Linked DNA regions of Homo sapiens: regions 2, 3, 4, 5 and 6 are each linked to region 1. Evidence: fine-mapped expression QTL. A gene starts in region 1. Each other region holds a variant in brackets. All regions are shown on one strand. Distances are between the middles of the regions.

Evidence for each region. PIP is the estimated chance that this variant, and not a neighbour inherited with it, causes the effect.
Region 2: its variant is fine-mapped to the expression of CNR1 in whole blood (TOPMed, PIP above 0.99).
Region 3: its variant is fine-mapped to the expression of CNR1 in whole blood (INTERVAL, PIP above 0.99).
Region 4: its variant is fine-mapped to the expression of CNR1 in nasal epithelium (TOPMed, PIP above 0.99).
Region 5: its variant is fine-mapped to the expression of CNR1 in fibroblasts (GTEx, PIP 0.99).
Region 6: its variant is fine-mapped to the expression of CNR1 in tibial artery (GTEx, PIP above 0.99).

What each region holds. Positions count from the first base shown.
Region 1 is chr6:88,163,643-88,168,719 of GRCh38, forward strand. It overlaps CNR1 (cannabinoid receptor 1), which reads right to left and starts at 2,705. Exons shown (of 2, transcript NM_016083.6): 1 at 2,161-2,705. RefSeq lists silencers at 2,382-3,061, 3,122-3,561, 3,632-3,831.
Region 2 is chr6:88,449,068-88,454,144 of GRCh38, forward strand. No RefSeq gene overlaps it. Among named protein-coding and RNA genes, the nearest start is that of CNR1, 290 kb to the left of the region's middle. The variant G/A (reference allele first, on the strand shown) is at 2,740.
Region 3 is chr6:88,534,465-88,539,541 of GRCh38, forward strand. LOC101928936 (a long non-coding RNA gene) reads right to left here and starts at 4,905. Exons shown (of 3, transcript NR_110867.1): 1 at 4,716-4,905. The variant G/A (reference allele first, on the strand shown) is at 1,962.
Region 4 is chr6:87,941,927-87,947,003 of GRCh38, forward strand. LOC105377882 (a long non-coding RNA gene) reads left to right here. Exons shown (of 3, transcript XR_001744246.1): 3 at 1-2,117. Among named protein-coding and RNA genes, the nearest start is that of SPACA1, 100 kb to the right of the region's middle. The variant G/A (reference allele first, on the strand shown) is at 2,793.
Region 5 is chr6:88,336,676-88,341,752 of GRCh38, forward strand. All of the region lies in intron 2 of LOC105377885 (a long non-coding RNA gene), which reads right to left. Among named protein-coding and RNA genes, the nearest start is that of CNR1, 170 kb to the left of the region's middle. The variant C/T (reference allele first, on the strand shown) is at 2,318.
Region 6 is chr6:88,363,069-88,368,145 of GRCh38, forward strand. All of the region lies in intron 2 of LOC105377885 (a long non-coding RNA gene), which reads right to left. Among named protein-coding and RNA genes, the nearest start is that of CNR1, 200 kb to the left of the region's middle. The variant G/A (reference allele first, on the strand shown) is at 2,823.

The DNA.
Region 1 (5,077 bases):
ACACAATCAATGGGGCTGCTTCCTTCTTGGGAAAATAGGTAAACCGAATCAAAGAGTTTTCTTTTGGAAGAGGCTGAAATATGCCACAAATACAGTGGTTCTTTTTGAGAATTTCATTCCCAGCAGTTTCATCTTGGTAACATTTAACAATTTCACTATTTTACCATTTTGAAATGCCAAAAAGAACACACTGATCCTGCAGCTAGGCTTATTAGAGAAGAGCAATCTCACAGGCAAGACAGAGAGGAACATGGTCCACTGGGAAATGGGTAACAGAAAAAGACAGAAAACAGTGGATAACAAACAAAGCCAAGCACTACTTCAATGTGAGACCTGGTGTTCATCAGAATTTAAAACTTTACACACTAAATAATAATCACTTATGGCTTATTTAAGGTTCTAGTCATAACATTCTTTTTACATACATATATTAATGTTATTAAAATTCAGGGGCATGAATATCTAATTTGCTTTCCTAACAACGAGTATGCAAGCACAGTAATTTTATTTGTGAAAGGCCAGAATTGGGTATTTCCACCTTGTGGCATCATTGTACCCCCATGGACACTGAGAAACACAATGAGACCTCTCCCCATCAGACACTTGATACATACCTCAGCCAAGAGCGCTCCTCGCCTGGAGTGGGAGACATCTTTGAAACAAAAAGAGTCGGTTTACAGTAAGTTCTCCTGATAAGCTAAAATGGATTAGTTTTTTAAAACCATGTCCCACATCAAGTCTCTTGCCCCACTATGGTAACTGCCATTGTGCCTACAAATAAGTGCCTGTAGTATGCAATGTTTAAAATTCTGGAGGTGCATGTCTTCTGCTCATGTATGGATATAATCTGAAAGTAATTTGTCTCACTTAAGAAACTATAAATGGCCTTTTATTTTTATAAAATTGCTCTTAACTGAGTTAGAGAGCGGGGGAGGGGGAGGAGTACCAGGGAAAAAAAGGACAGAGAAAAATCAATTAGTGTATCTTCCCTTGCAAACTGTCAGTAGGGTAGGATTAGAAAAGCAACACTTTAAATCACATAAAGTCCTATGGGAACCTTAAAGGTTGGTTGCTCTGAGCTTCTCAATATTCTGCAAAATAGATTGATGTCAGTGGTGACCCCACTAATACTCAGTGTCCGCTAAGCTTCCTCTAAGAAATTGCATTTCCCCCATTGTTCAAAAGATATTAACTTGGTAATAAAAATGAGGAGAAGTTATGGGACCCACAGAGATATCTTTCAACACCTTTAAAACCAGTAAATCTGTTCTAATCTCTTATTGGATTACATGCCCGAGGAGGCTTACTATATCAGGAAATCAACAACAAAGGCAAGAATAGCACTTATTTGGAGGAAAATAAAAAAAGATGGGAGGCAAAATGATTAATACGTTACTAAACATTTCTTTTGTTTTTTTATCTGTTCAATTTTAAATATCTGAGAGACAATCTATTAAAATCAGAAACATGCATGTTGCTTTTAAACTTCCAAATGACCAAATGACAGTTTCTCATGTCTATTACAGCAAACATATTTTTATTTGAGAGGTGATCCGTTTATGATTTGTAAGCCTTAACAAGAAATGTCTTTTAAAAATGCAACATTAACTTTAGTCATCTAACAGCTAGTTCTGAGTTAAACGGTTCCATCAACATTCAATTTTAGGTATTAGTTACATGGACATTTGTTTTTCCTCAAAGAGAAGTGGTTCCTGTAGCTTTTTATCAAAAGTTTATTATTTGACATACATCTCTTTATATGACATTTACTATTTTACATTAGTCAGTTTCTAGGCTTGCAGCAGAGATCGATGTATTTCCCTGGGAAGACTTAGCTGCTAACATGGTTTATAGGCATTCAGCACCAACTCAAGCGCCCGTTTTTCAAACATGCACAATTACCCATTTTCTACAAACAGACATCAGTGCATACAGAGCCAGGTGCACACACATTCAATAAATAGTAAATGGTAGAAATCTCCAGAAGTAGAACAGATCACAGTTAACAGGCTGGGGCCATACAGCTAAGTAAACACCGACGCACGATTCGCTCACACGGAATAAGAACTCCACGAAGGACACTTGGGGACCACACTGGTCGTACCCGAGGGGGCGGGAGGCGGAAAAAGTATTTCCAAACGCAACTCTGCCAGGTCTTACCCTTCGCATCCCCTGGTCCTCGGGACAGAAGCTCCCTTGGCACCTCTCGCCCAGCTCAGGGGCTGGTTGTCCGCTAGAACGAAATATCCCCCACTGACTACGGAGAGCTCTGCAGGGAGCCGAGGCCCCCGCCCGGGCCAAGGGAAGGCGCTGGCGCCGCGGGAGACAAGAAGAGGCGGAGGCGGAAAAGAAGTGGAGAAGGAAGGGGTGGCAGAGGGAGTAGCGTGCGGGAGGCGGCGCCGGCGCCGGGCTGCTGGCGAGGCGGGGTGGGGTGGAGTGGGGTGTGCCTCCGGCGGGCGGTCAGCAAGTCAGTCCGTCCGAGCGCCGGCGTCCCGGTCTCCAGCGCCCGCCCGCGACAGCGACCGGGACTGGCGCCCCGCTGCTCCGACCGCCGGCGAGCCTCGCCCCTTCCCAGGCTCTTCACTGGGTCCTCCCGCGAGCCCCGCCTGGCCCGGCGTGGGGCCGCCCGTCTCCGCCAGCCCGGGCGCCCGTCGCCTCGTCCCGCTCGCGCAGTCCCTGCCGCTCCCTCCGCTCGCGCTGTCTCTGGCTCCCTCTCGCTCCAGTCCCATTTATGAAGCGCGGTCCCATCACGTGTTAATGAGCCTTTGTCCTGCCCTGGCAGCGGCGGCGGCACAGACCCCGCCGAGGGAACTGCGCGGGGAGGGACCTGAGCGCAGCGCCCGTAGCCCCAAACTTTGCTTGGGGCGGGGGACCCGCCGCGGCGCCAGCCCTGGGGCCAGAGGGGACAAGCCTCTTCGGCCCGCGTCACCTACTTCTCCTCTTCCTCCTCCTCCTCCGCCGCCGCGCTCCCGGAGGCCCCCGCTGCCATGACCTCGCTGTGCTCCCGGATACCCTCACACCCTGACCAGGCCAAGAAGGGGCTGGTGCATGCGCCGCCCACGACCTCGGGGCCATTAATCACACGCTCCCGGGCAGCGCGCATCGCCAACACCTTCCGCGGGGGTCACGTCTGGGGCAGCGGGCTGAGCCGGAAGGGGAAGGGGAGCGGGAGCCCAGAGGCCGAGGCGCGCCGGGCCCGGGGGTGCGGTCTCGCGCCCCCTCCCTCCGCGCAAGGCCGCTCCCGTGGCAGGCGGCAGCGAGCTGGGCCCGGGGCCGGGCTGAGCTTTGGGACCGCGCTGCGCAGCCCCCGAGCCGTTCGCTACCTGGCTGCGGTCGCGCGGCCACCTGTCCTCCGCCCTCGGGGCGCCGCCCAGCTTCGCGCCAGGCGCCTTCTCCAGCGCCCGCCGCCCTTTCCCGGCGAGACCACTCGGGCGCGCCCCGCCCGCCGGTCCCCGATGCAAACAGTTGGGCTCCGTAGGCGGCTGGCTCCGCGCCTCCCGGCCCGGCGCGCCCCCTCCCCGGCCACCCGGGGCCCCGCTCCTCGCACCTTTTCGCTGGAGGAGGACGCCCCACTCCAGGGCCGGACTGGGGGCTCTGGGACTCGGGGGCGGCAGCGGCGGGCGCCTGGGGAGCCGCGGTGTGCTCAGCAGCCGCGGCAGGAATTAGGGGACATGCTCGTTAATTGTTTCCACTATCAGCCGCCGTCTGCCTCCTGTGTGCACGGATCAAACCTTAATTGGTCTTTACATTTATCATGGTGAATTGCGAACCTCCAAACAAGCCTGGGCCGCCGCTTCTGCCGAGGAGGCGCTCCCCTCCCCTCCGCCCCCGGGGCCCTGCAGGGTGTGCGGCGGCGGTCGTGGTTATTTAGACATCTTTATCTCTCGTGAGTTGGATCGGGAGAGGATCGCACGGTTTCCACCTGACGGAGCCACGTCACGTCGGCCACAAGGGCCCCGTGCTGGGCGCTGGGTTCGGTTCCCGGCCGTCCTCTTGTGGCCGCCTTGGCGTTCATTTTATGACACCTTGCCGGTGTTCCCAGACATCATCCCGCACCGCTCCGTTTTACCGACCTCCAGGTCTTCCCGCCCCTGATCAGACCCCAACAGCAACCGTACTATATCTGGACCCTATATTTGAACTACGTGGTGAGAATCTGTGAAAGCGAGCCTCTCAGGGAAAGAAGGAAGATTGTTGAGTTCAAGGTCCTGGAGGAGGGAAGGCTGTAAAACCGTTTTGGAAACGTCAGGCCAAATCGTACAAAGGCTTCCCGCAGAGCACTAGTGCAGTTTTTGAAAATCCCCCTAGACTGCTTTAGACTAGAAGTATTTCCGTCAAGCAAATGACCATTTGACTCCATTGAGAGAGAGAGTCCACCGCTGAAATGATTAAGTCCTACTAGGTGGGTGGTTAGAAAAGGTTATCAATAAAGTTCTGATGGACCCATCGATAGATGGAAGAATGACTGGGAGATAGATAGTAGATGTGGGATTAGTGCTGAGCCTTAACCCTGCTGCTTGGGGAAGGCTCTACTCACAGGCATTTTTAGCCCACCTCCATGGCAGAGACAGCTCCAGCGCAAGATTCAAAGGGAGGAGGCTTCAACATCTGTTGCTTTTTTCTTTTAGGGGTCGTGGTTGTTAGATTTTCCCTTCACCTCACACCCCTGGCAGTAGGAAATATTTGCAAAAATTTTCTCTCCTTATGACCTCGCAGACTCTGATTTCCCAAGAGGCCAGATGACAATAACTTCAAAGTCTCTCCTCCACCTGGCAGCTCAGTTTCAAATGACTGCTAGTAATTAAAAGAAAGGATCAAGGCAGCGCTTCCTCTGACTGTGATAAGGACATCTTCAGTCACAAGAAACCTGGGGGAGCTGGACTCCTAGAATGCTTTCAGGCCACAGGATTTCACTTGGGTGCTACCACCCTCCCCTGTAGCTGGAGGGCGTGAGCTGTTGGAGTGGCAGAGCTGTTCAACATCACTCAGCTAAACAACACTGACACACCCTGGTGGTGCTCCTTCTATAAGGAGCACTTTCCCACATGTTGATCTATACCTTCGTGGTGGTCAGCAT
Region 2 (5,077 bases), 290 kb after region 1:
TGACTTTTTAATGATTGCCATTCTAACTGGTGTGAGATGGTATCTCATTGTGGTTTTGATTCGCATTTCTCTGATGGCCAGTGATGATGAGCATTTTTTCATGTGTTTTTTGGCTGCATAAATGTCTTCTTTTGAGAAGTGTCTGTTCATGTCCTTCGCCCACTTTTTGATGGGGTTGTTTGTTTTTTTCTTGTAAATTTGTTTGAGTTCATTGTAGATTCTGGATATTAGCCCTTTGTCAGATGAGTAGGTTGCGAAAATTTTCTCTCATTTTGTAGGTTGCCTGTTCACTCTGATGGTAGTTTCTTCTGCTGTGCAGAAGCTCTTTAGTTTAATTAGATCCCATTTGTCAATTTTGGCTTTTGTTGCCATTGCTTTTGGTGTTTTAGACATGAAGTCCTTGCCCATGCCTATGTCCTGAATGATAATGCCTAGGTTTTCTTCTAGGGTTTTTATGGTAAAACCAGGATCTTAAAGAGATATTTATATTATTCACAACATCGAACAGGTGGATGCCACCTAATGTCCATCAACAGATGAATGGATGAAGAAAACATAGTACATATACACACAATGGAATATTGTTCAGACTTTAAAAAGGAGGAAATCCTGTCATATGTGGCAACATGGATGAACCTTGAAGATATTATGCAAACTGAAATAAATCAGTCACAAAAACACAAATACTGCATGATTCTACTCTGTGCATAGAGTTAACGCCGCTGAACCATATGCTTTAAAATTATTAAGATGTTCTACTTTCTGTCTCTATGAATTTATCTATTCTAGGTTCCTCATGTAAGTAGGTTCATACAGATGTGTCCTTTTGCAGACAGTGGCTGTTTAAGTCAGAAGGCAAGGAGGAAGAGAAACAGCCACAGAAGTTGGCAAGGCCTGGCAGGATGGAGAATCCGGAGTTATTGCTTAATGGACACAGAGTTTCTGTCTGGATGATGAAAAAGTTCTGGAGAGAGATTGTAGTTATAGTTGCACAATGCTGTAAATGTACTTAATGCCAATGAATTATACACTGAAAAATGGTTATGATAATACATTTTGTTATATTTTACCACAAATAAAAATAATAATAAAAAAATAAAATTATTAAGATGGTCAGTATTATATGTTTTTTCACCACAGTTTTAAAAATAGGATACATTTCCAAAGATGTGAGCACTGAAAAAGAAATTTCTAGGGTCCAGAACTGAGACTTGGAAGAGGCCATAATTTGAAAGGAACTCTTGGAAAAGACAGAGGAAGAACATGAGAGGTTGAATAAAGAGTATGATAACCACCATAGCTGAGAGAAAGGACGTGCTACAAGGACAACCAAATGAAACAGAGTGATAAATCAGACATCAAGGAAACAGAAGAATCATTACAGACCTTAGATGGGACAGTTTCAACATCCATTAACTGCTCCAATACACAGGAATTTACTGAGCTCCAACTATGTGCCATGCACTGTTCCAACAGGGAACAAATGGGGCAAAGTCTCTCTTTTTCATTGTGTTTGCAGACAACCAGTAAATACATGCCGACCAGTAAAGAAAAATAAACAATCCAAGAAGGCTGATGGGGGACACTGTTTTGCTATTTTGGTTTTCAAAAATAGGGTGACCAAGGGGATATGTGAGCAGAGACCTAAAGGAAGTCATGTGACTCAATAGGGGAAAAGCATTGGGGTAGAGGAAAGAGCAAATGCAAATGCCTGAAACATGGGGCACGCTTAGCCAGGAGACCAGCATGGTTAAAGCACAGTTCACAAAGGAAGAGAAATAAGAGATGAGCTCTGAGCAGTGGTCAGTTGGCTGTGGCACCAGTGACCAAGAGGGAGGGGTATGAAGTTCACAATAATTCCAACAGTTGCTAGGGAAATAAAAAAGGGATGCAATAAACTGGTGTTGAATAGCTCATTGGTGTCACCAGAAGTTTTGTTGTTTGTTTTTGAAGAAAAGTGAGATGTAAACATTTTAGAGGGGGGAGAAGAAGAGATTGAGAGAGCTATGAAACAGGAGGGAATTATTATAGAAGAAAAATCCTTTCAAAGGGAAAAAAAGGAAATCCAAAACAGAGTTAAAGATATTTGATTAAGGAAAAGGAAGAAATGCCTTCATCCAGAGGTCCTGGATAAAGATTCAAGAATAAGCCTGCAGCCAACCGTGGCTGCTTTCAGCATCACTTCTATACAGCATAAAGTCAGACAGTATAAATTTAACTCAAATAGAAGACAGATGGTCCTAGGAGTCTGTAGGCATAGATAGATATTTGAGGTGATTCATTACAGCCAAGTAAAGGAAGCTTCTGGTTGTTGACTTAATAAATTACTACAGGATCTTTACAAAAACTGAGGCTTGGCTAGATATGGATCTAATATTTTTGGTCATCACAACAAGAAAAGGGGAAATAGTTTGATCTTCATTTTCCTTAAGGCTTATAAAAAGATTAAAATCGTCTTAAAAGGAATCTAAAACAAATACTTCACAATAATTTAGAAAGTTTATATACACACTAGAATACATTAGCAGCATGATTTTATGGGGAGAATCATGCCAGATAAAACTAAAAAGCTCCAAACACCACAATCTGACTAAATGTTTGAGAGATTTAAATAATATTAGACCATACTATTCCACATCAGGAATGTTAGCTTAAACAGTCTTTGCTTGATGGTCCCTCTGTCTTAAAAAGGTTTGCAGTAAACAAGGTACTTTGGGTTTGTGACAAGCAGGCAACACA[G/A]TGTCTTGAAATTTAATGTGTGTGTTTGGTATAATTGACTAGAGCTCAGGCCCAGTACTGAAAACCATTAGAAAAAGCACAAAGAAGATAAAAGACAAACTGACAGCAAAGTGCCTTTCTGTAAACCGTAAGGCAATGCCTACCAAGTACCAAAATGTCTTTTGTGCAGGCCGATAGCAGTCTTTACCATCACTAACTTTTTTTTAAGTTGTGAAATACAGTATTCCTACAAAAACATGTACCAAACATACATGCATAGTTTAATGAATGATAATCATCCTCCTCCCTTCACGTCCCCCTCAGGGGTAACCACCATCCTGAATTTTATATAGCTCATTCCCTTGCCCTTCTTTATAGTGTTTTCAGCTATGTATGTATCCTCAGATAGCATATTGTTTAACACCAGCAATGGATTTGGGATCCTGTTAGACTTACATCTTACCATTAGTATTGACCAACACTGAGATTTTCACCATCTAGCTGGTATGAAATTACACTTCATTATGGTTTTAATTTACATTTCCTAATTACGAGTTTGAGCATTTTTTCATGGTTTATGGGACAGTTGGAATGGTTCATCAGATAGTAGCTTTTCCCATCTTTGTTTTGGCTTCTTTTATTTTTTTTTTTCATTTTGATTTCTAGGTGTTCTTTATATAATCCTTTGAGTTATACATCTTACAGATTTCCCCTAGTTTGGGGGCTGCTTTTTCAATAAACAGCCATTCTTACTATTCATATAGCCAAGATTTACCAATCTTCCCCCTATGGTTTTAGCCTTTTCTATTTGGTTGGGCTTGCTCTTGTCCTAGCAATAATTCAGTTTTTATAAATCATGTGTGCGACACATTAGTATGTAGAATGTGTATTTTCAAACCATTAAATGTATTGTTCTTTAAAGGTCCATTAGATCAAGCTTAATTGTTCAGTTAAAATCTTCTTTAGCTTACTAATTTGTCTGCCTGATCTATTAGTATTTTAGAGGGTACTATAGTAGTAAATTTATCCATTTTCTTTATAGTTCTGTCAACTTCTGATTTATATATTTTGACAATATGTTATTTTGTGCATACAGTTTAGATTTGCTATATCTTTAAGATGAATTAAAAATTTTTAATGTTCTATTGTGGCTGTCTTTATTATTGCCCTGTAGCCATTTTATCTAATATTAATATAGCTGCCTCAGATTTCATTTGATTTTTTGTCTGATATATCTTTTTTCTATTATTCGATTTTAGATATTTAGATATCCTTGTAATGTATGTGGTCTATTTAAAGTAGTATATGGCTGGGTTTGGGGGGTTTGGATGGAGGTTTTATTAATTTATTTTTATTATTATTTGTTTTTTTTAATCCAGCCTGTTCATCTTTATATTTTACCTGCAGAGATTAGTCCATTTATATTAATTGTGATTAACAATATAAAGCCATCCCCTGCTTAATGTCAATAATCTACTCCTAAAACATCAGATATTTTGCCTAAAAACACTAACTAGGAGTCTGTTTTCTGTTATTCTATATAAGAAAATGTATAACATGTAATGCATTATATGTTAACCCTATCTCTCAACTAGTTTTCTTAAGTAAAAACATTGTTTTCTAAAACAAATAATTCCATCAAAAAGTGAACAAGTTACATGAATAGATATTTCTCAAAAGAAGATATACAAATGGCCAAAACTAACCTATGAAAAAATGCTCAACATCACTAATCAGGGAAATCCAAGTCAAAACCACAATGAGATGCCACCTTACCCCTGCAATAATGGCCATAATTATTAATAAAGCCTAAAAACAATAGATGTTAGTGTAGATGTGGTGAAAAAGGAATGCTTATACATTGCTGGTGGGAATGTAAATTAGTAGAACCTCTATAGAAAACAGTATGGAGATTTCTTAAAGAACTAAAAATAGATCTACCATTCGATCCAGCAACACCACTACTGGATATCTACCCAAAGGGAAAGAAGTCTTTATATCAGCACGTGCATGTTTATCACAGCACAATTCACAATTGCAAAGATATGGAACCAACCTAAATGCCCATCAACCAATGAGTGGATAATGAAAATGTGAGCTATATATGTATATATACACACACACACACCATAGAATAGTACTCAGCCATAAAAAACTTGGATAGACCTGAAGGCCATTATTCTAAGTGAAATAACTCAGGAATGGAAAACCAAATTCTGCAAGTTCTCACTAATAAGTGGAGGCTAAGCTATAGGTACATAAAGGCATGCAGACATAATGGACTTTGGAGACTCAGAAAGGGAAGATGGGATGGGGTGAGGGATATAAATCTGCATATTGGGTACAACATACACTACTC
Region 3 (5,077 bases), 370 kb after region 1:
GAAGAAAAGAGGTTTAATTGACTCACAGTTCAGCGTGGCTGGGGAGGCCTCAGGAAACTTAAAATCATGGCAGAAGGCAAAGGGAAAGCAAGACATGTCTTACATGGCAGCAGGAAAGAGAGAATGAAGGGGGAAGTGCCACACTTTTAAACCATCAGATCTTGTGAGAACTCACTCACTATCACGAGAACAGCTGGGGGAAATCCACCCCCATGATTCAATTACCTCCCACCAGGTCTCTCCCCTGTCATGTGGGGATTACAATTTGACATGAGATTTGGGTGGGGACACAGAACCAAACCATATCAGCCATTGTACGAATTCAAGTGACAGGTAGGAGAAACTTGAATCTAGGGAGCTGTGTGAGCTCAGCAAGTAGACAACAGAGTGCGCAGCTGGTTGAGGCTGGAAGATAAGGCTAAGAAAGCAGGTTGGAACCAGACTGTGAAGAGTCTGAGAAGCTGTGAAGACGAGTTTAGACCTTATTCTGTAGACTTCTAAGAGCCTGGGAGGTTTTTCATCCGTGGCCTGATGGGACATGTGCTGTGGAACTTTATGGTAGCGTACAGACAGGCCAGAGTGCAACATGTGTACAGGTTGAAAAGCTCGGCTGGAAGGCATTTGCCCTTCCAGGCAAGGGAAGGAAAATGAATGAACTACAACAGAGGGTTCAGATGGACTCGAGAGATGCGTCTGAGACACAATTAGGAGTCTTCACAGCCAAATTGTTGGGCAAAATAGTGGAGAAAATAAACCAAGGAAGGCTTCGAGGTCCCCAGCCTATGAATATGGATAGGCAATGGTACCATCCATTATTAGAGGAATGCTCAGGAGAAGGGCATGCTTGAAGCAGGACTGGGATGTCTGGAGAGTGAATTCTGTTCTGGAACTACCTGGGGATTCCCTCCTGGGGATTCCCAGGAGCCACTGCATATGTGGTTCTGCAGCTCAGAAGAGAAAGCAGGTTGGAGAACCAGTTGTGGGAGGCACAGACAGTTAGGGGTAGAGTGGATCAGATCCTCCAAGGAGAGTGTGCACTGCAAAAGGAGAAGTGGGTTGTGGCAGGCCCCCCAGGAACACCAATAGCACATAAGAGCTTCTCCATAAGGCCCTCCCTGGACTTCCTTCCTCTGATCCAGCAATGAGGGGGCCCTGTGGTTCTGCAGCTGTCTGCCCTCAGAGTCCTCTGGGCTGCCTCCAGAACAGCTCTCCCACGAGGAATAATTCTTTCAGTTTATCATCTCTCAAAATTTATTTTTCTGTTTGCTAATAATATTCAGGCCCAAAACCCTGTCTCACCAGCTTGAGTTTAATGTGATGAAAATCCATATTCACCTTGAACAGGCTATTTCAGATAACAGATATTTATTTGATCAGACTCCATTATGCCCTCAGCTACCTCCCTGCCTACAACAAAAGAGGTTCAGCCCAAGGTTTCAGAGACCATTGTTCGAGGTCCTTCAGTCCCTGGAACACAGTAACCACAAGAAGAGACAGATTAAAAATTAATAAATGTGCTGTACTCGATGTCTCGCAGTCAAGGATATTTAAGTAGATAAAAGAGCAAGGGGGGAGGGGAAGGTTTCATGGCTAATGGTTTTCTTTATAATTATTAGGTGGGAAAAATGGGTGAAAGAGGTGGGGGAAGGGGCAAGGCAATGAAGACAGAACTTGCCTCTTGCATTAAGAGGCAAGGCCAGCAGAGACGAGGCTCTGTGGACAACTGGGGTATTTTTAGGCTTGGATCGTGCAGGGGGCGGTGCACAATGAAGTGCGGAGGACGGAGACGAAGGAGCAGAACGTTTCCACCCAGGCAGCCTCGCCTAAAGCCTGGCTGGCCCTGACTTGAATAATGAGGCTGTTTGGACTAGCCTGAGGCCAGTAGCAGAGACTTATGTAACAAAACAAAATTTAAAAGTCTTTGGCTTATCTACCATCCTCAAAGAAAATAGGAGGCTTCC[G/A]ACACTTTGTCATTTTTTGTAGCCATGGAGTAGTTTAGTGTAGCAGCACTGTTGTGGTTACCATCAAAGGAAACGTGTGTTTCCTAATAAGAAGTAAATTAAAATGCCAATAATCAAATAAAACCACCCCCACTCCAAACACACACACATTTGCTGAACCCTGAGTGGAAAAGACAATACTCTTTTTAATGAACTACGAGATCAACGAGATTTATCCCCACCTCCCTAAAAGAGCACCTAGTTAACTAGAAGCAAATCTAAATATTTTCTAATACTGCTGAAGTATTGCAAAACCCAGAACATCAAGAAGTATTCCAAATCAAGCCTGAAGCAAACAAAGATTGTGTTTGGTTCAAGTCGTGCTCATAAAATATACCACTATGCTATTTTAAGGAAACAACTAAAATGTTGTAGATTAACTCCCTATAGAGAACAGAGTACGCTGAGACTGAGGAATTGGTTAAGCATTATATTATCTGTGAAACAGCCTGGCTTTTGGTAAATTAGATCAGATGGATAGAGCTTGGGGAGCTGCAGAGCCAAAATCAGGGCTGGGATGGACTCATGGGCCACCAGTCACTGTTTGGTTTGGGACCATGAGCCAAAAGACCATGGAGAGACAAGGGTACCTCCCTTTCCATGAGGTGGAGCTGATGTGAGGGTGCCTTTTCAAAGCACATAATCCATCCCAAAATGCAGAGCCTGCTGAGGTCCCCAGCACAGTGGCTTGTGACAGGACTCATCCCAGGGAGCTTTATAAATCTACAGGTGCTCAGATCTCACCTTCAGACTCAAATCCAATGGCTGGGGGTGGTGGGGAGGTGAAACAGCTCTGGCATCTGTGGGCATCAAAGCTCTCCCAGGTGGTCTCAATGTGCAATCATGATGGGAGCCCTGCCGTTGCCCATCCTGTTCTGAGGTTGAGTCCCCTTCCCTTCCATTCACATTTCTCCCTAGGCCAGGCAATGCCATTAATACCCCCTCCTCCACCAAGTGTCTGCAGATGGTGCAAAGCCCAGTCACGCTGAAAGCTGAGAGTCGGTGATTGTCTCTAAGTGAGGAGTGATGCAATCTGATTTGTATTTTAGGAAAATAACCATGTAGGCAGGATGGCAGAAGGACTGAGGAGGGAGAGCCTGGGGGCAAGGAGACCAGTTGGGCACTTGACCACTGTCAGCTTTCAAGGCCAGGAAGGAAGAGGGGCCAGGGGTTGGAGGATATGGGAGAGAGTCCAAAAACATGTCTGAGGTGGAACCAACAAATTTGGTGATTGTATGTGAGGGAGCAAAGGCAAGGGAGGAGCTGATGGTAAAATTTCAAGATGGCAAAATAAGGTTAAGAGTGACAAAATTAACTAAAAATAAGATCAACTGTCTCGAGGAAGGAGAAAGGGCACCCATCAGCCTGGAGTGCTTGTCCTCCTTTCTCATCTTAGGCCCTGGAAGGGCTGGAGCCTGTTAAACAGAGCCGACATTAGACCTGGTGCCATGAATTGGTATTGCAATAATTTGAATTGGTGTCTGGACTCTGAACTTCTAAAGGCCAGGAAGCGATCTGGTTCACCTTTTTTAGTCTCAGCACTTAGCCCCATAAGCATGTAATAAGCGCACAACACATTTTTGCTACAAAGACAAGTGGCATAATGGAACTGGGAACAGCCTCACTGGGAAATCTCACTGTTGTCAAGCCAGCCTTATGACAAAGATAGTTTCACATAAAGAGGAGCCAAAACTCCTCATTCACCTGGGCTGCAAATGGCTTGCATGCCTATGATGATGCCAGCAGTGTGCTTTAGGAGGAAGTGTTAATGAGGAAAGGTTTTTAGGCTTGAGGTGTCATGCTTCAGTTTCCAGTGTGGGCAGCCGCTGACAAAAGCCGCTGTCCATGGTAGGTACTGCCTCTGAATGTGGGAGAGGAGGGAGGCAGTTGGGGCCTGAGACCACAGCTTGCTTCTGTCCTTGTCATGGACATGCTGAGGCAGAGGTAGAGGGGCATGGAGGGGCTAGAAGTGAACTTAGCCAGCAGAACCTGGGGAAATGGGGGGCAGGCCACTTTGCTCAACAGCAGAGGAAACCCCTTTGAAGGGGATGCATGGTGGTGGCTACAGCTACAAAAGGAGAGCAATCGTTTCCCAGAGCGCAGGGAGACAGATTCTATGTGCTTCTTCCCAACTGCTCTTCTTTGCTTCAGATCTCCCTGCAACACTCCTTTCTTTTCCCAAGTTTCCTAAAATGACACCATGAATATGTTTAATTAATTAGTCAATCAATAGCCAGTGATTATCAGACAGCTGCTATGTTCGTAGTTAGAGGAAGCTGCCATGTGCAAACTGGGGGCTGACCCAGACCAGTATGTTTCTGACCTCAAACGTGCCTCGGGCAGCATTTGACCTGGTATTCCCATCCCACCTCTCCTTACAGATGCTTTCTAAGTGGTTTAATCCCTCCTGTACCAAGAAAGTGATCATGTCATCTACAGTTACATTTTTCACATAAAATCGCCCTGTCTGATTTTTTCTTTTTTACTCTGAGCCATTTCCCTCTCTCCGTCACCACCATCCCACTCCAATCCTCATGGGAGACAGTGTCACATTTACCAATTAAAAGCACGATATCCATTCTCCTTTGTCTGCAATACTGTGAAGGCTTCATTTTCACATTTCTCTTTGGCTGGAAGTGTTAACTTCCAGTTGCAGGAGGTGAGGGTGGGTTTCCCTTTCCCTGTCTATGAAATTCAGTATACATTTATACTCACTTTCTTTGCCCTGCAGGTTTGCCTCTTGAATTTCTCAGAAGTCAGCAAAATTCTGTGCTAGGCAGAGTCTAGGGGAGCTGTTGTTGACAGCTTGGGAGGGCGGAAAGGACAGAAAAGGGAGAATGGGGGAAGAAAATAAATAAAGAGGAGAGCAAAAGGAAAAATAACTCTGGAGGCAAAAGGGAACTGTCCAAATGGTTTTGGAAGCAACTCACTAGCTCCTGTTGTGTGCCATGGGCTTTTGTTCTCAATGTCTTGAAGTCAGTCACCGCCTTATTTATTCCGTTCTGCGAGCCTGATCCATGTCTAAGCAGACCCCCTGCAAAGACATCCATCATGGAAATGAAGCTGTGTTGCAATAA
Region 4 (5,077 bases), 220 kb before region 1:
TCGATATACAGAACTGCTCTTCCACACAGATTCTCTTTTATTCCTGGAAACTACTGGACACCCAAATGAAAAAAAAATTTCTCCCTCCTAACATGACTCATCACTTTAGATCAATCTGCTAACTGGTACTCTTCCATTGCCATAAAATAGTGAAGGGAGGATTTGATGACAGAAAACCTGGGTTCAAGTAAATATGCCATTTCTGGCTGTGTGATTTTAGGCAAGACACTTAACCTCTCTGAGTTTAGCTTTCTTGTGGGTAAAATACAGAAAATGGCAACATATATCAGTTATGATAATTAATTGAGCTAATGTATGTGAAGGTGTATTTTGCCTCTAGATGGTCATGCAGTTTAGGACATTGTGTCTTCGAATGGGCTAAGGAGGAGAAGAAAGTGAAGAGAATGCTGCTAATGAATAAAGCTGCTTCTAAACCCCATCCACTCTGCAGGAACACACAAATACATCCAGATTTATGCAGACTGGTGTCAGGGGCTGCATTCATTGGCCAATTTAAATAATTTTATATCTTAAAATAATTATGGCATTTGTAGTAGTGTTTTCCAACACATATGAGGTCTAAAACAAAATGCCCCCAAAGACAACCACATGCAATCATTGCATTCATTTTACATTTTTAATGAATCTCCCTGCTCCCAGAGCTCTGTTGCTATTCCCAGCAGCCCGGGTTCTGTTTTGTGTTCCTTCGTGGGTACACAGGGCAACCTGCCTGTTTTCTTGTCTCCATATGCATTTTAACTTCATAAGAAGACAGGATATGAGAAGTAATCTCCTCTCAGGAGGTTTTTATTTCTACAAATTACCAGCTACATGTATCTTGTTAAAAAAATCCATAAATAAGATAAAACAGGAGTATGTGTTTGTTTCTTGCCTAAAGCAAGCAGTGCAGCTTTTGCCCTGCTACTTGCTTACAATGGATTTAGAGACTGAGAGTAACTTCCCTTCCCTGAGCCTACAGTTCGTGCTCTGCCCTCCATATTCAGAAAACAGTATTAGACGGAAGAGAAGGGGCCGAACATCCCTGGCTTCATCCAGATGGAGCAATCCCACTCCTCAAAGCAATCTGAGGGCTAAGAGTGATTTAATAAAGATTGCTAAGAATGATTTAATAAAGATTGCACATGAGCAGCACTAGTAAAGAATTTGGCAACATATAATACATATAACACACTTAGGAAACACATACCAAATGTACACCACCTATTTCTGCAGCACGTAATCTTTGGTTAGGCTGTAACTGCCTTAAGGACTTTCCCATCTAAAGTTGTATCAAATATGAGCCTTACCATAATGCTGTCAGGCCAGGAAGGCAAGTATTATTCCTAACGGTGGCGCACAAGGTCCCCTACCATCTTATACCACACTGCAGTGTGCCCTCTCTGCTTCCTAGGTTCTATCCACACTGACCTTTCTGTTTCTTGAACACATCACGTAGTTCCTACCCCAGGACCTTTGCATTGGTTGTTCCCTCTGTGGAACACTCTTCCCCTGGGTCTTTAAATGACTGTCTCCCCACCATACAGCTATCAACTGAAATTCCTCCTACTCAAAGAAACCTTCTCTGGCCACTTTAAAGAAACACTACCCTCATCTACCCCTTCCCCAACACATGCTTCTCTATTATTTTACCTTGTTTATTGTCTTCAAAGGCCTTACCATTCTCCGGAATCATTGCCTTTATATATTGGTCTATGGCCTCTGTTCCCCCGTAGAATGAAAGGTCAATGAAGGAAGGGACTTTGTCTAGTTCACTGCTAGGTTCCCAGCATCTAGAACACTGCCTGGCACACAGGAGACACTAAAAAACTATTTACTGAGTTCATTTCAGTTTGGTCAATGAGGAAACCAACATCACAAAGATGAAGTGAATTGCTGGGATATAATTAGGGCAAACCTGGGACATCTCTTAACTTTCAGACCAGTGCTTTTCGCTCTAGGCAAGGAAGTTTACTACTTGCCCATTGGGTAGCCCAGAATTAACATGTTGTCCTTTGGCGTGACACAAGAAGTTGAGATTTCTTGTCTTCAGAAGTAGGAATGGACAGTCATCCTGTCAAGATATGTGTGTGTAAAAACTTAACCCAGGGCTCAAAGGTGCTGTTTTTGCCGTATTTTCCTGGGATTTGGGGGTTTGGGTCCCATCTAGAGTGCACTAATTTTGAGAAGCAGCGTGAAGGGATAGAAACAAAAAAACTTGGCTTGGTCCTGAGCAGGCCATTTATTGCTGGGTGATATTGGACAAATCTATCACCTTCTCTTGAAATTAAGGATAACGTAAGCTTTTACATGGCTGCCCTGAACTGAATAACCCTGAACACATAAAATACCCAACCCAGGTCCTGGAGTACAGGACACATTCAGCGCATACTTCGATGTTTCCCTTCATCCAATTTGTTGTTGTTTTCAGAGACAGGTCTCATTCTGTCACCCAGGCTGGGATGCAGTGGCATGATTGTAGCTCACTGTAACCTTGAACCCCTGGCCTTAAGCAATCCTCCCACCTTGGCCTCCCAAAGTGCTAGGATTATAGGCGTGAACCACTGTGCCCAGTCCTTCATCCAATTTATGATTGAAGCCTCTTTCCTTTAGGATATGAGCTGAGTTTCTCTCTCTCTCAAGCTCTCAACATGCCTTGAAATCTGCTTTACTATAAACGAAAGTGGCTGATTGATATCTGGTGATTAACTAATGATGACAGAAGGAGGGAGGTGACTCTCTGGGGTGACTAAAATGTTTACACTGGGTATTTATCATGCTGCAGTTGAGCTGGA[G/A]ATATGATCTTGGGGAAAAAAAAGGACTAAAAATGTGACTGCCTCAGTGCAAGTCACGGCTAGACAGAGAGCTCGGCATGCCACCAGCACTGACCTCATGCTGATGGCTCTCAGCACTGAGAAGGCCTGTCAAGACGTGCCAGAGGCTCCACCATCAGGCCAGGGCCAGAGGGTGAAGATAAAGCAGCGTATAAGAGGTAAAAGAAGAGAGATCTAGGAGTTGAGTTTAAATTCCAGGTCCTCCGGCTCAAATTTTGCAGAAAAGGTTTTTTTCTTCTGTTTTCCTCATATACCCTGGAGTTTTTAAGCATGGCATATTTGGAATACAGTTACCACAGGAGAATGCTGGAACTCCAGGGTGAAAAGAGAGGCAATATTTAAGAAAATATGATGTTCCGCCTCTATGAAAAAGCTTGACAGTGTTAACATGCAGCGAATTCAATAGGTGTAATGGGTCGTGGTAAACTACATCCACAGGCTTCCAACCAGCTCTGAGAATAATACCTGCTTTCTCATTGAGTTACAGCGAGAATCAGTATGGGAAAGTGTTAAGCTCTAAGTCACTCCATAAATACTAGGTGTTTTAATGATGACAATTTGGCGGTGAGCAGGGTCGGTGCAGGGAAGATGTCAGAACAAAGTAGGCTGATCTTCCAACGCTCACTCCTGCATTGGCGTCTGGCTCTTAGAGCTCAGTTACTTACTCAGCTGTAAATAAACTCTGAGATGCAGCAGCTCAGCTTCATTCCCTCCCTGCCCTTCTCTTTTGCCTGAAAACATCAAGGGATTGGATGGAAACAAACCATGCAGCAAAAATGTGCTGAAGAGGAAAGAGACTTGTACACTTGAAAATCGCCTCTAAATAGTACTTCTCAGAGGTAAAGCAGTTTAAAAATATCTGTGTATAAAATACACTGAATCAAACAGCACAGAATCTACTGAGCATTGGTATAGATCCCTTTCTTCATCAACACACATTCTGTGACAAAAGTATTTATTTGACTACATAGGATTCAGGGCAGAGAAATAAAACCTGCTGTTAACTGAAGGAAGGCAGCAGCCTTTGTTCTGGCTCAAACGATGTTGCTTGATGGTAGCATGTAGACATACGAAAATAAAGATGATCAAACAGAAGAGTGTGATATATAGTCGTACATTTTGTGAGAGAAAATCTGTACCATTCTGGAAGAGGTGCTTATAAAGGTTCCAGGTGCTGCCGCAGCGCCTGGGTCCACACATCATATGACTTGACATCTTCATTTACCATTTCAACCCTCTCATCATTTCCTCTGCATCTCTGGCTCTTGGGCTTAATTCTTTGGCGGACATGCTTATTCTCTTTACTAACAGGCAGTCAATATTACATCATCCAGTTCTCTGTGATTCCTTTCACACGATGAGATATATTTGAGCAAATTCTGTTGGGACTTGTTTTTCAACTCCACGATGCCTGGCAAAGTGAGGCAGTGAGAATGCCATGCAAAATACTGAAACTTGATTGGATTGCAGCCCAGACGGCGTGACTACAGCAACATGCTTACCCTTCTTTATGTGAGCTGGTGGCTGTAAGACATCCATATGCTGCTACTTGGGCTTCCACCCAAGATGAATAAAGAATGAATGAGGGGGAAAAAGATAACAAATTAATTAGGATTGTCTGTTAATTGAGAGGGTTTGACACGGCTACCTTGTGTTCAACAGATCATGCAACCAGCAACATATTAGTTCATTATCAAGAAAGCAGAACTTGGGGTGAAAAAAATACAGAACAGCACTACAGCAGGGTTTCTTAGTCTTAGCACTGTATACATTTTGGGCTGGATAATTCTTGGTTTTGGGGGGGTCTGTCTTTGGCATTGTAGGGTGTTTAGCGGCATACCTGGCCTCTACTGACTGGATGCCAATAGCACTCTCTCCGCAAGTTGTGAAAATCAAAAATGACTCCAGACATTAGTAAATGTCCCCTGGGGAGCAAATTGCCCCCAGTTGGGGACCACTGCAATACAGTAAATAATACACATCCTGTAGCCCCTCTTTATGTCTCATGTCTTTCCTTTCCCAGTGACCTACTTGACAGGAGCTTGTTGTAAAGCTACAATGAGAACATGATACTTAGACATGAGACAGAAGTGAGATGGTAGTTTACGAGAATACAGAGTGTGACACTTCTTCAAATCATCGTGACTTAACCATGTCCTGCCATACGCAAGGATGTCTTCCCTGGCTCTGAACATTCAGAAGAAAGTGAACTTGCTGAAAGCCTCGCCCCTATGGAGGGGTTTTCA
Region 5 (5,077 bases), 170 kb after region 1:
TGGCAATAATCAATAGCTTACCAACCAAAAAGAGTCCAGGACCAGATGGATTCACAGCCGAATTCTACCAGAGGTACAAGGAGGAACTGGTACCATTCCTTCTGAAACTATTCCAATCAATAGAAAAAGAGGGAATCCTCCCTAACTCATTTTATGAGGCCAGCATCATCCTGATACCAAAGCCGGGCAGAGACACAACCAAAAAAGAGAATTTTAGACCAATATCCTTGATGAACATTGATGCAAAAATCCTCAATAAAATACTGGCAAAACGAATCCAGCAGCACATCAAAATGCTTATCCACCATGATCAAGTGGGCTTCATCCCTGGGATACAAGCCTGGTTCAATATACACAAATCAATAAATGTAATCCAGCATATAAACAGAACCAAAGACAAAAACTACATGATTATCTCAATAGATGCAGAAAAGGCCTTTGACAAAATTCAACAACCCTTCATGCTAAAAACTCTCAATAAATTAAGTATTGATGGGACGTATCTCAAAATAATAAGAGCTATCTATGACAAACCCACAGCCAATATCATACTGAATGGGCAAAAACTGGAAGCATTCCCTTTGAAAACTGGCACAAGACAGGGATGCCCTCTCTCACCACTCCTATTCAACATAATGTTGGAAGTTCTGGCCAGGGCAATTAGGCAGGAGAAGGAAATAAAGGGTATTCAATTAGGAAAAGAGGAAGTCAAATTGTCCCTGTTTGCAGATGACATGATTGTATATCTAGAAAACCCCATTGTCTCAGCCCAAAATCTCCTTAAGCTGATAAGCAACTTCAGCAAAGTCTCAGGATACAAAATCAATGTACAAAAATCACAAGAATTCTTATACACCAATAACAGACAAACAGAGAGCCAAATCATGAGTGAACTTCCATTCACAACTGCTTCAAAGAGAATAAAATACCTAGGAATTCAACTTACAAGGGACATGAAGGACCTCTTCTAGGAGAACTACAAACCACTGCTCAATGAAATAAAAGAGGATACAAACAAATGGAAGAACATTCTATGCTCATGGATAGGAAGAATCAATATGGTGAAAATGGCCATACTGCCCAAGGTAATTTATACATTCAATGCCATCCCCATCAAGCTACCAATGACTTTCTTCACAGAATTGGAAAAAACTACTTTAAAGTTCATATGGAACCAAAAAAGAGCTCGCATCGCCAAGTCAATCCTCAGCCAAAAGAACAAAGCTGGAGGCATCACGCTACCTGACTTCAAAATATATTACAAGGCTACAGTAACCAAAACAGCATGGTACTGGTACCAAAACAGAGATATAGATCAATGGAACAGGACAGAGCCCTCAGAAATAACGCCGCATATCTACAACTATCTGATCTTTGACAAACCTGAGAAAAACAACCAATGGGGAAAGGATTCCCTATTTAATAAATGGTGCTGGGAAAACTGACTAGCCATATGTAGAAAGCTGAAACTGGATCCCTTCCTTACACCTTATACAAAAATTAATTCAAGATGGATTAAAGACTTAAACGTTAGACCTAAAACCATAAAAACCCTAGAAGAAAACCTAGGCATTATCATTCAGGACATAGGCATGGGCAAGGACTTCATGTCTAAAACACCAAAAGCAATGGCAACAAAAGCCAAAATTGACAAATGGGATCTAATTAAACTAAAGAGCTTCTGCACAGCAAAAGAAACTACCATCAGAGTGAACAGGCAACCTACAAAATGGGAGAAAATTTTCGCGACCTACTCATCTGACAAAGGGCAAATATCCAGAATCTACAATGAACTCAAACAAATTTGCAAGAAAAAAACAAATAACCCCATCAAAAAATGGGCAAAGGACATGAACAGACACTTCTCAAAAGAAGACATTTATGCAGCAAAAAGACACATGAAAAAATGCTCACCATCACTGGCCATCAGAGAAATGCAAATCAAAACCACAATGAGATACCATCTCACACCAGTTAGAATGGCAATCATTAAAAAGTCAGGAAACAGCAGGTGCTGGAGAGGATGTGGAGAAATAGGAACACTTTTACACTGTTGGTGAGACTGTAAACTACTTCAACCATTGTGGAAGTCAGTGTGGTGATTCCTCAGGGATCTAGAACTAGAAATACCATTTGACCCAGCCCTCCCATTACTGGGTATATACCCAAAGGACTATAAATCATGCTGCTATAAAGACACATGCACCTGTATGTTTATTGCGGCACTATTCACAATAGCAAAGACTTGGAACCAACCCAAATGTCCAACAATGATAGACTGGATTAAGAAAATGTGGCACATATACACCATGGAATA[C/T]TATGCAGCCATAAAAAATGATGAGTTCATGTCCTTAGTAGGGACATGGATGAAATTGGAAATCATCATTCTCAGTAAACTATTGCAAGGACAAAAAACCAAACACCGCATGTTCTCACTCATAGACAGGAATTGAACAATGAGAACCCATGGACACAGGAAGGGGATCATCACACTCTGGGGACTGCTGTGGGGTGGGGGTAGGGGGGAGGGATAGCATTAGGAGATATACCTAATGCTAAATGACGAGTTAATGGGTGCAGCGCACCAGCATGGCACATGTATACATATGTAACTAACCTGCACATTGTGAACATGTACCCTAAAACTTAAAGTATAATAATAATAAAATTAAAAAATAATAAATAAATAAATAAATAAAAAACAATCCAGTAGGTGTTAGGAGTATAGATAAGACAAGATTGGCCGTGAGTTAATAAGTGTTGAAGATGGATCACGGGCATAGGGGATTCACTGGACTACTCTATTTTTTCTATGTTAAAACATTTCCATAACAAACATTTAAAAAGAAATGACAATGTTTTCATTCTATACCCCTGAATGCCTCATTTCTAGTTCTCCCTAGGTAATAGCTATTTGTAGTTTCTTATGCATCTTTCCGGAGTTTTTATGTGATATATTCTTTTTATAATTAGAAACATTAAAATATATACTATTTTTAAAAAACAGATTTCTTGGGAAATACATAACTTTCAACCTAGCAGTTGACAGTTATTTGAGTTCATTCTACAAGACTAATGCTCATTTCCTTTCAGACTTCCATGGACACAACAGCAGATCATCGGGACCAGTGTAAGTGCTTGAAAATAATCACAAATAATGACAGCAGACTCATTCCTGGTGACTTGTTTCCACAGGAATGAGAATAAATCAGTGGCAGAAAACTCTTAAATTTCAGCCTGAGGGTCATAGGAGGCCATTCCATTTTCAAAGGGTTGTGGCTATTTATAGCTTTTATGTTTGGAGGGGATGAAAAAATATCAAACATAAATTTATTTCATTGAAGAACATTACCTAATCCTAAGTATGAAAACCAAGCCATTACTCAGGGAGATCTGACAAGCATTCTGCCTATACATGTGGCCATGGCAGTGGGTGGCTGCTAAACCCCATCGTTTTTAGCACAGCTGTGATTGTTCTGAAATTCTGCCATTCCATAGTATTTTTGAGTGAAAGGTAGATTTACATGGGTTTTAAAGAATGCTGGTTTACAACTTTGAGTCATACTGAGAGGGCTTTCTGTGGGATAATTGAAATGCAATGCATTGAAAAGCTGAAAATTGGGATGAACTCAAATTAATATTTGATGAGAAGCAATACATAAAGAGTTTGAGGAAGGATTGCAGTCTCAAAAACTCAAACGAAAATAAGTTTAGGGAGAAGTTATTTAAGGATATTTTAAATAATTTAAATAATTATAGTCAATCCAAATGCTGTTGGTACATCTGTCTTTTTATTGTTTAGTAATACTAGATTGTGGTTGCAGAACAATACGTGTTCTCTTCTTTATGCACATCCAGCAGCATGAATCTTGGCAATATATCATCTGGGAAAATTGTTTTTTGGGTGATGAATTGCCAGGTTAAGGGTATTATATTCCTGCTATCATGCCTTCATTATCAGAGCATTTAAAAAATATATTTCTATATGATACAGGAGTATTTTTGTGATAAGAATTAATATAACACCTTAACAAGCAGTTTAAGAAAGTCAACATGATAATTTTAGATTTATACTCAACAATGTTATATAAGCAATGTAAATAATAACATTAATAGCAATATTTTTAAAGCTGTGTAAATAATACCTACTTATAAAAGTGAAACACAAGCAAAAGAATAATACAAAGGCATTTTTAGCAACAAATTCATCAAAATAGACAAGGATAAAGAAATTTCATGTGTAGCACCAGAGGACAGCATAATTAATTTCACTTTTTTTGGTTTGGAAAATCCATGTGTGTGTGTGTGCATGTGTGTGTCAGAGGGTACAAAGGCAGAGATACTAACGTGTATGCAAAGAAACCATAAACTCATAGTTTTTTTGCTCTGGTTTAAAGCAGTAAGTAATTACTCAAGCTATGCAATGAATTTTTATGTAGGTAAAATTCAGGACTTCTTTGAGATGTGAGACATTTAAAACTAATTAATAGTTATTAATATTGGAAAATTCCCAGGCTTTAAAAAAGTATTTTTTTTAATAGAAGCATGTGGTAAAGACAGAGTGTTAGAGAAGGGCTCACCATTTTCTCTGTTAAGTGAAATACAAGACAAAGCAATGAAAAAGGACCACTTACAACTACCATGAAGCCAGCTAACAAAAAGGACAACTACCAGCCAACAAGTCCCGATCAAAGGACTCGAAGAGCATAAACAATGGGGCGGGCATGGGGATGAAGAACGGTGGATGTTTGTAACATGGAAAAAAACTCTTGGCAGTGTTGCTTAGATTATTGTGTTGTTTCTTTATATTTTTCCTTTCAATTCCACATTTCTCATTTAGAAAACACTACGCAAATATATACAAAGGCAATACTATATTTCACCTTTTGTTTACTTGCCCTGAGACTTATTTATAATGTAATATTTTCACAACTACTAGCCAAATGGAGTTCAAGCTTTTAAAAGTATAAAAATTCAAAATGTACTTACTAATTTTTAAGCTTTTGTTGTGTATATTTACATGTCCACACATGTATGTTTAGACTATTGTTTTTGAGTATTATTCTGATAATCTTTC
Region 6 (5,077 bases), 200 kb after region 1:
GAAACTCTCCAATCTGGACTAGTTGTCTTTTCTTCCTAGGATCCTCCTTCACCAAAATCTGGGAATCTTTTTTTCTGACCTGTGTTTGTATGCTTTGTTTTCTTCATGCACCCTTCCTCTTTCTTGATATGCTTTCTGCTTTTGGTTTGGTACGCCCTCCAGGAGCCTCCTGAGAAAATATGAGAATAAAATTTTTGTATGTCTGAAAATCTCTTTATTCTACCCTTTCCCTTGACTGATAGTTTGGCTGAGTATTGAAATTCTAAGTTGAAAATAATTATCTTTCTGACTTTGAAAGCATTGCTCTAGTGTTTTTAGAGGCTTTGTGGAGGAATCTGAAGCTGTACCAATTCCTATTCTTTGCACTCCTTCATTTGTAGAGAGCAAGAACAAATAAAGCCAGGCCACAGTCATCCTTACCATTCTCCTACTCCTTGTCTCAAGGCAAGATACTCACATGGTCTGGGCTTCTCTCCTGAGTTGGAAGTGACTGCTGATCTATGAGGTCCTTCCCAAATGTAGGGTTCACTTGTGAAGATATAGATAAGAATATTCTAAAACCCCTCTGAGTAGGAGAATTGTTTCTTATCATCACTGTTTAATAATCATGAAAATTATTGCTTTTATACTTCTTATCTTTATCCAACCCTTTTCTTGACTCTATTCACTGATTTGGGGAAAACACATTAATTCAAACTAATAGGCATGTCAAGATTAATGAAAAGTCTAAATTACAGAGCATATTCAAACCATTACCGGCATCTGTGTTGCAGTGGAGTGAACTTTGGATTATGCATCTGAAGACCTATGTTCAATGAAGTCCCAGCTTGGCTATGTCATGTGTTCTTGGACTAGTCCATTGTCCTCTTTGAGCCACTGCTTCCCTCTCTATAAAATAGGCATGATGCCTATCTCACAGGGTTGCTGTGACAATAAAACATATCACATGCAGTGGTTTAGTACATTGTACAACAAAGCATCACACACATGCGGGAAGCGCTCTCACAGTCATTTAAAGCAGATAAATGATACTGTCTAGTGTACTTCCTTGGGGAACCTAGTTTAATATATAGATAAGAGTGTGTTACTTGCATATTTGTTAATATTAATGTGCTTTTAGGTTGCTTAGTAACTGTTCTACTTAAGTTAAATTTTTTGCTATAATAATTAGTTTAACAAATCCTTTTTTCCAAGACATCATAAAACTAAACTTTAGCCCAAGTCCTTGTCTAAATTATTAGAAACTTCAAATACATAAATTTTATTGCAGTTGTACTTGTTTTATCATTTAGAAAAACATAAAATTGCCACTCCAGAGTAGCAAGATTTTTCTGGGAATAACATTACTGAAATAACACTGAGGTTTTGGTGATTTGAAATAAATGGAACCCTGTTATTATTACTTGAAGCTGAATTGGGTTTTTTAGTGGAAAATAAAATAGGACAAAAGTAACTTAAAGGAAGAAGTGGCAATTTTATTTATTTTTTTATAAAATTGTACAGACATATCTTATAAAATGCCCCAAACAAAGCAACAATGACTATAGATTGGATTGAAATGGGTTTACATGCCAGCTACATTTGACATTATACCTCAAGGACTCTTGCCCTTTCTATGTACTGCTGTTTAGATCAAAGAAATAAACAAGAAGCATCTGAGAATTCTGTCATTCAGGAGGAAATATAGTTAAATACTGCCAAACATATAAAGGGGGATTCAACCAAAATTGAAACCTAATGAGAATATAGGAGTCATCTTTTTTCTTCCTATCACAGATTTCTCTGATCAAAGTGTCCTTATTTCTAATATTATCGCACATTTGTGAAAAGAATTTGGTATAGTTCAGTCTTTGATCAGGTAATATCATTTTATTCCACAAATATGTACTGAGCACCTGCTATGTACCAGGCACAGTTCTAGATGCTGTGAATGCAGCAGAAAATAATATATACAACCTTTCTTGCCCTCGTGGAACTTCCATTCTAGAGACTGTCCAGAGACCAGTCAGGTAAGAAAAGCCTGGGTGGCAGACATTCCAGAACATGAGAGGAAGTGATGATCATGAGCCAGTATCATCTTTCTCTTGGTGCTTAAGGGAACTACAAGCCTTTGGCTCCAGTATATTTTGACTCCAGACCTGATTCCAAAACTTCTACTTTTGTATACATCTGGAAGGCAAAGAGAGACTCAAGGCACAGTGGTCTGAAGAACCTGGGTGCATATGAAGGAATCGTATCATCTAACTGGAAAACTCACTGGTCTCCTCTTTCACCAAAACAACAAAGGCAAGCTGCCAATTTTATCTGGTATAGCAGAAGTATTGCAGGACAGCCTCAGTTTTTAACATTCTGTCCTGTTCTCCTCATGAGTACACACATACTTGTCACACCATGTTCTTCTAACTTTGGGATGGGAAAATGTGGCCTCTGTCACCATAAATCAAATACTGGAGCAGCAGCTGAGACATTTTAACTCTGCAGTGCCAGCACCATGTAGCAAAGACACCAAGGGGAGATAGACTGATTAACAGCCACAGTAATGGCTGCAATCGTGAAGAAAAGATCCATAACTGTTATATGCCAGGAAGCCTCGTGGCAACTGAGGAGTAGAAGAGGGGACTTTCAAAACATCTAAAACCATGTTGAGAGCCATTAGGGAGAACCAAGCACTACCTAAACAGTAAACTTTTCTTCCTATTTTCCTATTGCTTCCCTGATTGGGTAAGAGAGAGCTCTGATGTGCTTACTGAAACTCTCCGGTTGAAATTCTGGCCACATCTAGCTTTTCCTGCCCTGCTCTTTTCCTATTGCAAATTCACCAT[G/A]TATAGTCTTCCCTAAGAAATGAGGTCATAGAGGCAGAACTGGAATAAACATCCATCCAGTCACAAGCTCCTCAATATAAAATAGTCTCAGCTTTGTATCATTTGACTAGAGGTTCCATTTCTTCTTAATAACAAAACAACAAATTATATAAATGTGTATTTGCATTTTTGGAAGTTCACTTTAGTTTTGTAGGAATGGAGACTGTCTTGTTCTCTACTCTCCTTTCTGATCACGTCCAGAGATGTGAAGTCTCGCTTGCTCAAGTTATTTGATTTTGTTAAACATAACGTCACAGATTTTTTGAGCCAAATCAGATTTTATAGGTCACCTAGTCCAAACCCTCATTTAGCAGATGAAGAAACTGAGACCCAAGGAGGTTAAGTAACTATCCCTGGTCACAAATCCAATCAATAGCAGGGTGAGGGGTCACTGACCCAAACCCCACAGTCATTCCACTGAATGCAAGAACACACCGAATTACATTGCCAACAGACTTCTCATATCCCCAAGATCCTCCAGTGGTTTGGGGAGGAAATGAAATCTCTTACAGAGAGATTTCACAGGGAGGCAGGAAAAGCACTCAAGTACATAGAAGCAGCAAGATCCCCCGAGAGTGACCTGAAGCTTCCCATGTATTCAAATGCATGGGGGCATTTTTGACCACTCTTGGAGCATTTCCCAGCCTGTAGATGGTACAGTTGGGCATAGAGTAATTTAAGGGAGTCATCTTTGTGAACTCTTGTGCCTGAGGACTTTCGTTCATATCAGATGCAGGAATCATCAAATCCTAAGATCTGTATGATTCTTGATACATGATATAGCCCTAGCCAGTGGCTAGGACATGTCATCACATGTAGTATAGGAAGCTTCATTTGGACAAGCATGAACAGAAGCCCCTTTTCATCACAGTGGATTTCTAAAACTGATTTTGTATAAAGATGACTGCAATAAAATGGGCTATAGTTGCCATAGAAACATGATTTCTAGAGTTTGGTAGCAGTTTTACGTGTGTATGTGTGTGTGAGTGTGTATGTGTGTGGGGAGGGGTGTATTCTTGACCAAAAAGGAGCTGCCATAGACACGTAGCACCTAAAATGGGTAAAACCAATTTGCTTACACCATAGTCATGCATCATTTATTTGGCTTAGAGATGATTTATTAGCTCTCACATGAATTAATTAAATATTTAATTTACCGTCCTCTGGTTTGCCTCCATAGAATTTAGAAGGACTTCGAGATGTTAATTTAAATAGCTCAGTTCTCTTTAATATGCTACCCACTAACTTTGAACTGCTACCTTTTTTCCTCCTTGAAAAGTGTCTCCATAGCAAAGAGAATCATTTAAAATTATTCTATTGCCCAGAATTTCTTTTAAAGTGGTGGGTACTTAATACATTTTTGTTGGTGATAGTAACTGAAAAATTTCTGGAAAACATGGGCTAATCCTACAATTCTTCCCATCTTCTCCTGCCCCTTCAATTTATTTAAAGCTACAAGTAAGGGCAACAGTTCACCTGTCAGTCAAAAAGCACCGTGGCCCAGAAACAGGAAGAGACACACCCTTCATGGTCATAGAACCTACATGAACTTTGTGGCTGAGCTTTTTGACCACCTCACATGCCACTGAAAGCATCAAGCCAACTACCAGACTTTTAGAATGGGCATTTTATTAAAGAGTTCACAGATTTGAGATGGGGATAAGCAACAGTCTAGCTGTACTGGTTCTTTCTTTCTTCTGGAGTGGGTACACAGTCACTGGAAGTGCTGAATACAAGGGAGTGAGTGTGGAGAATTTAATTATGGGTGTTGATTAGGCAGCTGGATAATTGGGACTGACAATGGTGTCTGTATAGCACAACAAGGCAGAAATGGTCCTGGTCAATGTAAAATTGGTAAAATTTGCTGGGTTGTTTTCTCTCTGAAGATCTGAATTTTGACTACAGTAGTCAAGTATTCCCCTAATTGTGTGTTCTGTCTGCAAATGTATTTAGGAAGATTTTTTATCCTGGGACTTTATGAACAACTCAAAGTATAAATGGTTAGTAAAACTGAAAAGGGTTTAATGTGGCTGCTAATAAATAATATAAATAAAAATGATAATCCTCTAGCTTTTATCTGTTGTCCATCCTAATACTGCCAAGGATGGAGTTAGCAGGTACATTCATGTACTGAAGGGGCAAGGGTAACAAAATGTACCCTTTCTGTAAAACAGGGAGAAATTCATAATTTTCTAGCCAGTATTTACATTCTTAGG